2 linked regions of the Homo sapiens genome follow. The protein of the gene in region 1 purifies or fractionates together with the protein of each later gene. This does not show direct contact. Each region holds a gene or a part of one and is shown on either strand. Other genes may lie near its edges.

Region 1 (4,195 bases):
AGGTCTGATACTTTGTATTGCTCAATGCATCAAACTGGATTTAAAATTGATATGTAAGTGTCCATTTGCCTTCATAACCTCTAAAGATAGTTAGCTGTCATCACACAAGAATCTGGTGAGAAATAATTAAAATCATATTTTGTCTATATCATGTCTGATACATTTAACTATTTGTAACTTGGTTGTTTAACCCTCTGGTTTGTGTGATGGTATCCTCAGGCATAATTTGTGAGGAGAAAGCCCAGCTTCCTAGCACAGTTCTGATTTTTAGAAAGACAAAGACTGAAAATTACATATTTCAAACAAAACCATGTGTGTGTGCGTGTATGTTTGTATAGGTATATGGATGTATAGCTGTATAGACACATACATTACCCTAAAAGTTTAAGATGTCATTACAAAATCAAGTGAAGGTTTCTCTAAGAGGTAAACTATAAACTTTTGGTACGCAATTTATGATGTTGATTCAGAATGTGAAATATGCCATGAAGTCTTACATACTTGTGACTACACTGTGAAAAGTTTGCCACCCACATAATCAACAGTGAGAACGATCAATTAGAATGTCACCTTAGAAACGAATTAGTTTTCCAGAACTTATGCAAATCACTTAAAAATTAAACTCGCCAGCTTCTCTGTTTTTTCTGAGTTTGGCCATTTTTCTCAATTCTTGTTAGTAAATCAGTCACAAATCTTAAGTGGATATTTAAGCTTCATGGCCCTTACATTACAGACCTAACACTCGTGAATTCACTCAGCTGGTTTCTAATTATTGTGTTAAATACTAGGAAATGGCAGATTCATGATTATCGTTTGTGTAGAAAACGTGATTTATGACTTTATTTTCAGCCGCTTATACTTCTTAGTGTTTGCAAGATGACAGAAAAGGCAGTGCCATCGTGCAGAGACAGGTTTGTCTTCCTTAGGGCACTGCGATAAGTCCCTAAATGTCACTTGGGTCATAGATCTGATCTTTATTTTGCCTAAACCTCCTATATCCTTTCGGTGATCGCCCTTAGTTCCTGCCCGGGCAAGCACACCACACCGAGGAGCATCGAAGCGAACCCTCGGGCTGCTCGCCTCCCGCGGCTGGGCTCTGGGAGCGCGGCTCGGGTATGGAAGTGGAGCGGGCTTTGGCGCCTGGGTGGCCCTAAACCTACTCCGAGCGGCCACGGCGGCCTCTTGCCAGGGACCCCCGGGCGGGGGAGCAGAGCCAGGCGGGGAGCGGGTTTGCCTTCGGGGGCCCAGGGGACCCTGAGAAGTCTGGCCGTGCCCGGGCGGTGAGCGCGGAGGCGGCCCGCCCTGTGTCCCCGCGGGGCGGAGCCGGGTTCGGGGCCGCGCTCTGGGCCGGCGGGCCCGCAGGGGTTAAGCGGCGGCGGGCGCCCCGCGAGCTCCGCCCCCGCCCGCCGCACCTGGCGCTCGGCAGCCGGCCGCCCCGGCGCTGGATTTCGGAGGGGATTGGCGGAGCGCGAGGAGAGAATGTGACAAGTGCCGGCTCGGCGGCCGCCGGGGGAGGCCGCGCGCACCTGTCCCTGCCCGTCTCGCGCCGCCCGCGGCCGCTCGGACGCGCGCAGAGCCGCCCCCCGCCGCTGCCGCCGCGTGCGCCCGCGAACATGACTTCTGCCTTCAAGCTGGATTTCCTCCCGGACATGATGGTCGAGGGCCGCCTGCTCGTTCCTGACAGAATGTGAGTGGCGCCGCGTCCCGAGGCCGGGCGAGCGGGCGTCCTCCTCCCAGAGTCGGCGGCGCGAAGGGGACGGGCGTCGCCCGCAGCTCCCGGGCGCGACTCGGCCGCTTCGGATCCGTCGCCTCCCTCGGCCTTCGGAGGCCGGCACGGGACGCGGGAGGAGGGAGCGGGTGCGGACGAGCAGCGCCGGCGGTGCAGGGCGCGGGGCTTCCCGGAGGGACGAGCGGAGCGCGGCGTCCCGGGGACCGGGCGGGGTCCGCGAGTCCGGGTGAGGACCAGCGGGCCGAGCGCGGCGTCCCGGGTCCCCGCGGGGTGAGTGGGGGACGGGCGGGGTCCACCGACCGGCGCGAGGACCCGCGAGCAGGGTGAGCGGGGCGCGGCGTCCCGGGGTCCGGGCGGGGTCCATGAGTCCAAGTGGGACCGGCGAGCCGGGCGCGGAGTCCCGGGGTCCGGTGGGGCGGGCGGGGACCGGGCGGGGTCTGGGGGTCCGGGTGAGGACTGAGCGGAGCGCGGCGTGACGGGGACCGGGCGGGGACCGGCGAGCGGGCACGGGGTCCGGGCGGGGTGCGCGCGTGCGAGTGTGCACGCTTGTGTCATTTGAAATGCGGGGCTGACGGAGCTCTGGTGGCCGGGGGGAAAGAGCTCTTCTTACCAAATTACCCGCTCATCTGATTTAATATTTGCAAAGATCCTTTCCTAAGGTGGGAGAGGGGAAGCGGAGACAAGGAAGGGCGGGGGGATAATTATAAAGCGTGAAACTAGCCAGGTGTACTTTATTGCAGAAATTAGAGGTAATTTTTACGTAATCATGGTTTGTCTGATATGCAGTCTGTAATTTAATAATTAATGTGATTCTGGTTGTTTTACATGTCGTCAAACTAAGGTAGAGCGTTTATTGGAAAGAAGTAGAGAGCTGGGATTCCTGAAGAAAGGAAAGTATGTCTAATTTTTAGCTGGCTTGATAGGAAAGTTTTTATTAGCTCGGAGGGGTCAGTAGGATCTATTTGTATTTCAGGCATGTTAGGAAAAGGAAACCTAAAAAGAGAGAAAAGATTGCCAGAGTGGGAACAAAAGGTCTGTGTCCTTTTTCGACATTTTAAGTTTTCTCTGATCAGGCGAGAAATTGGATAGCGGATCTAAGCTGTAATTAATCTAATCCAGTGAGAAAAAAATGGATTGGTATGGTAAGAGTGCGTGTAAAATGTTTCCTGTTCTACCCACTGTAGGACTTAACATCCCTATTCTGTCTGGCACCTTATGGTACTCTGCAGTATTGAGGTTATTCCAGGCTTTATGATCCATTTCCCTGGCAACTAACTTTCCCCTGCCATGCTAGATTCTTTTTCTAGCATGTTAAGTGTTATGAGTTAAGAGATTCTTGAGAAACTCTGCAGTGGCCAATTATTTGAGCTGCAAGGACCTCCCCACCAAAAAAAAGGAGGGGGGTGGAGGAGGGGGATGATAGAATCTGTTATGCAAATTGTCTTTTGAGTCAATATTAAGAATGTTAATTTGCTTGTACACGATCAGGTTCATCTTTTCCGTATTCTGTTTTGGTAGTTTTCTCCGAGATGTGAATCATGATTAGTAACATTTCCACGATATTTGTTTTAAGAGACCTCTGTCCTGTCCCCCATCTTAAAATATATACCTGTATAGACACGTAATACATGTTTGCACATGAGCTAGTATGAAAGTTTTATGCGTTTTCTCCTCTAGAGGCTAGAGGGTCCAGGCTAAACTGAAGAATTCGCCTAATCATGATTTTGAATTTATGGTCACCTGCTACTTAAGTGACCATAATATAGCTAAGCTGATGAATGCTCTATGAATTTAAAGTGTTAATGGCCTCAGAAAGATGCAGTTTCTTGTCAATTAAATTATGAATTACAAAAATTTAATTTATCCTTTTCATTTGGTGGATGAATGTGGCCTGTTCAAGCGATTTGCTCTGAACTGAGCCCTTGTGCCTTAGCCATGGAGTCTCCTATGAAAATCCTAACGTGACTTCCACCTCACTTCTCTTCCAAATGTTAGTTATTTCCAAATGATAGCCTTTGGAATCAAACCCAAATTGTTCTCAGCGTTTGTCAGCTGTTGCTTAATTGAACTAAGGGAAGAAAAGAGGATTTGTAAATGATAGTTTTATTATTTGTTTCCTAAATAGCTATTGTGTGTCTCCATAGCCCTGAGAACACTAGAGCATGCTTTTATATATCGTTCATAATTAACTCACATTAAATACTGTATCTGGGGATAGAGGTGTGTGGGGGGGAATATGACAAGTTGAAAATGCCTGAAATCCGCCTAAGTTGTAAGTTTTATTGCCATATTCACCCAGTTGAGAAGATAGCCATGCGGATTTATTGTTTTAGGGACTGGTTGTCATGTGTGGTATATTGCCATTTGGACTAAATTGCAGTCGGCTAGATATTGGCCTGTTCCTAAAAGGAACTTAAATAAAGCATAGGGGCTTTTCTGCTGTTGATTTTTCTAAAGCAGTAGAAT
Region 2 (4,032 bases), about 40 Mb from region 1:
AAACAAACCTATAAAATGACAAGATACAATCAATAAACCTACAGCAAATAGTCTAACACTTAGAAGGAGTCATGTTATTAGGGCTCAGCCACACTTGGTTATCTTCATATCATCTCGCGTTGATATTTCTTTGCTCTCTACAACAGGTGCTGGATGGTTCCCCCATTGAAGTCACCCTAGCAAAACCAGTGGACAAGGACAGTTATGTTAGGTATACCCGAGGCACAGGTGGAAGGGGCACCATGCTGCAAGGAGAGTATACCTACTCTTTGGGCCAAGTTTATGATCCCACCACAACCTACCTTGGAGCTCCTGTCTTCTATGCCCCCCAGACCTATGCAGCAATTCCCAGTCTTCATTTCCCAGCCACCAAAGGACATCTCAGCAACAGAGCCATTATCCGAGCCCCTTCTGTTAGAGGTAACACCAGTCAGATCTTGCTTTAGAGTAATCCCAAGATTTCAAATGACTCAAATTGCAGTAGCCTTAGATACATTGGATGGGTCCACTTGGAGAAAAGCACTGAAAAATTGTTTATTAAAAATCAACTATTATATCAATAGTTTTCCTTTAATAGGAATCTTTTTCACATTACAACTGGTTATTGAAAAAACGTCATCAGAACATTGTGCAAATGAGCCTAGTGCACAGATTCAAACTTTGCATGGGCCCATAAAATTTGCACAAACTAAAACCTAGTTCTATAATTGTTAGCTTCTTCTATATCACTTGTCCACCACTGTGTAGTCATCTGTGGCTCATTACAACACTTCTGGAATAGACTAGTATAGTCCAGTGGAAACCAATTACCTCAAATAGCAAAACCCTTTCAAGGCATGTGTGTATTTGATGGTGACTCAGTGGCATTGTCTTAATATGTAAATCACAAATTATTATAAATATAATCTAACAGACATATGAGATGTTCTCATCTGACCTCCTCCAGGAAATATGTTATACTTTCTTAGAAGCCAAATAATTAAGGACATTACTATATTTCTTTAATACATGGAGAACTGAACAACAAATAGAAAAAAAACCCTCAATCAGACTGCTAATAAAACAATAAATATTTCACATTTGAATCCTGTAAGAATTCTAAATGTTTGAGCAGTTTTCCAAGCTCCATTTCTTCAAGAAAGCTAGAAGATAAAGAAAGCCTTTATTCTATTTCCAAGAAACTAGCTTGTCCCTGTCTTTTTGGCTCCTTCAGATGAGTTTTTCTAGGATGTGGCTAATGCCAACTGAATCCCAGTTCTATCCTCCAAATACGACATGAATCTGGGCAATTCGATAAACTGTGCATTTAAGTCTATTCTTGGGTTTGACTTAGAAGCAAAAAGGCACATCTAGATTACTGTGGAAACAATTATCTTACTATGTTTTACTACTTTTCAGTATAACTAAATTGATCATATTAGGAGCTCTAGTCTTCAACAGCCTTAAAAGTTTCATACTCATAATTACTTGCCCCAAAATTGTAATGCAAATGAAATAATCAAGATTTCCTTTAAGGTAACTTGTCTATGTGATAATAAATTATATCATTGCAACATTATGCATTTAGAATATAAAATCACCTCATTAACCAATCCATACATTAAATACAAATTGTCAACCAGTTATGATGTCGAAAAAAAACAAACTCCACTATAAGGGAAAAAATGCCTATCTTATAACAAGAAAGGAATCAATGAATGATATTCATGGATGAAGGGTAATCAATTTAATTTTTTATCTCTATGCCACCAATATAAAATCAAAGTAGTAACATGGCAAAACAAAAATCAAAAGGAATCTATGCATGAAACTCAATGGAAATTTAAGCCTCACATTGACCGAACATCAGAGAGCATGGTGAACCTAAAAGCATGCTTTCTAAATGTTTGTTTTACAATAAGTCATTGGAAGTGGGATAATTAGGGAAGCCAGAATTTATTTCTGATATACTGATCAGTGACAGTCTCTATGCAAGACTGATTTCAAAATAAGTGGTCGCATTATGTTGGAATGTTCTAATAAATACATTCCCAGTCTTTATTAGTCTGTATAAAATATCAAGGTTACCTAAAGACAAAAATTGCAAATTTTCTATCCCAAAATTTTTAAGTTGTTTGTGTACTTATCAATAGTATTGTATTTATCAATGGCATTGTTTTCTTCTGAAGGTAGTTTTTCAAAAAAGAGAGACACCTATGTTAAACCTTACCTTATGTTGAGTTTCATTACATTAGAATCCTAGAGTCTCCCACCCATCTTCAGGGCAATAATCAACGTGAATTGGGCTAACTTTTCCATTACAGTAAGATTCAGGGTGATTTTCTGGTGGTTTGATTCAGTTTAATGCCTTCTTACGTTCCTAGAAATTTACATGAATGTACCTGTAGGGGCTGCGGGAGTGAGAGGACTGGGCGGCCGTGGCTATTTGGCATACACAGGCCTGGGTCGAGGATACCAGGTCAAAGGAGACAAAAGAGAAGACAAACTCTATGACATTTTACCTGGGATGGAGCTCACCCCAATGAATCCTGTCACATTAAAACCCCAAGGAATTAAACTCGCTCCCCAGGTAGGTAATGTTATTCCAGAAATAGTTTCTTTAAGTTGTGCCAATGAGCATCATTCACTTTTATCAAATGATTTGACTTGATCCCTACTCAAGCTATGGGTTTTTTTCTTTTAATATATAAAGCATCCAATGAATGTCACAGTCTTTGAAGGAATGCTGGGCATCTGGTGCCATTATTCTATTATAGGTCCTTTCTCTTTTTTAAAAAATCATAAAGTCTAACACCTTGAACAATATTCCACTGAAATGCAAAGAATCTGAGAGCTATTAAGAATTATCAACCCATACCCGAAATGAGGCAAAGACCCCATCTCAGAATAAATGCCTATTGTATGTGAGCCAGGTTGGCTGGCAAATGAAGAGTATTATGGCAGTGCCCTGAATAGACCATTTAGGACATCTTTTCTTGGAAATACTGTATCTAAGAGAAAACTCCACCATGATATCTGGGTGAATTATTAACTATGAGATGTCATCAGTCATACCAAATTAACTCTTCCTCCATAGTTATATTTTGGCAGTGGCATTACAGAGAGTTTTTACTGTGTTCATTTAACAGTTCTAAGTTTCCACACTTCAACATTAACCTGTGGTTTTTATTATTGGAAAATTAAAAGCTATAAAAGTTTCAATATGGAAACTGACTCCCGGGGTTAAAAATAAAACAAAACAGAGTCTATGCTAACCCTGAGACTGTTCCCTGTGGGAGTGTGATAGGTGCTGATCTCTCTGAAATACATTTTGGCTGAATAATCAGAGTTACAGTTTGTGTATCTTGAAGGAAACTTCCCTATTCCCATGACAAAGGTGGGCTTATAGCCTCACATTTATGGAAGTAGCCCTTATAATTTCAATCCAGAAGAAAACTGGTTTTCTAAAAGCTCATCTTGGGTAATTTTTTAATGGGATTTCTGGCTTTCTTTTATGCACAAATTAGCTTATCTAAGGTTTCTGCTAGCCCCACCCAGGGAATTTTAAAAAAAATGCCTATCAGACTGCTAAACAGCAATCATTTGTTCACATAAGATTTAGTAAACTTCTCTTATGCACCATGTAGTGCGCTAGGTGCTGGAGATGTAGAAGTGAATATAACAAAATCCTTATCATGAAAAATTAGATGGCAATCCAGTGGGAAAAAACTGACACGTAAACATATAATGAAATCTGGAAGTGATATGATGAAGTTTGTTCAGAAAATATAAAAGCCACTCATCCAGTTTCTCTTAGGTTAAAACCCAAAACAAAAAACCTGATTAAAGTACTGGAATACTTAGAAATATTTTAAGAAAATAAAAAATAATAGTCGCAAATTCTGTATAATAATAGTTCCGAGAGCTGCAATAGTATGAAAAGAGATCTCTTCATTTTACATTAAACTCAAGTTAGAAATTCATCATGTCTTTTATTAGTATGTGAGTAACAATCTCTATCAATTAATAAAAGTTCTTTAATTTGTGTCTGAC

What was found.
Region 2: the proteins of CELF2 (region 1) and A1CF purify together in Homo sapiens (affinity purification with western blotting; one study listed by BioGRID). This does not show direct contact.

What each region holds. Positions count from the first base shown.
Region 1 is NC_000010.11:11,016,477-11,020,671, forward strand, and holds the start of CELF2 (CUGBP Elav-like family member 2), read left to right. Parts: upstream 1-1,395; 5' UTR 1,396-1,613; coding exon 1,614-1,687; intron 1,688-1,795; exon of another isoform or gene 1,796-1,999; intron 2,000-2,021; exon of another isoform or gene 2,022-2,052; intron 2,053-2,279; exon of another isoform or gene 2,280-2,388; intron 2,389-4,195. UniProt on the Homo sapiens protein: RNA-binding protein implicated in the regulation of several post-transcriptional events. Involved in pre-mRNA alternative splicing, mRNA translation and stability.
Region 2 is NC_000010.11:50,812,394-50,816,425, reverse strand, and holds part of A1CF (APOBEC1 complementation factor), read left to right. Parts: intron 1-146; coding exon 147-420; intron 421-2,363; coding exon of another isoform or gene 2,364-2,387; coding exon 2,388-2,569; intron 2,570-4,032. UniProt on the Homo sapiens protein: Essential component of the apolipoprotein B mRNA editing enzyme complex which is responsible for the postranscriptional editing of a CAA codon for Gln to a UAA codon for stop in APOB mRNA.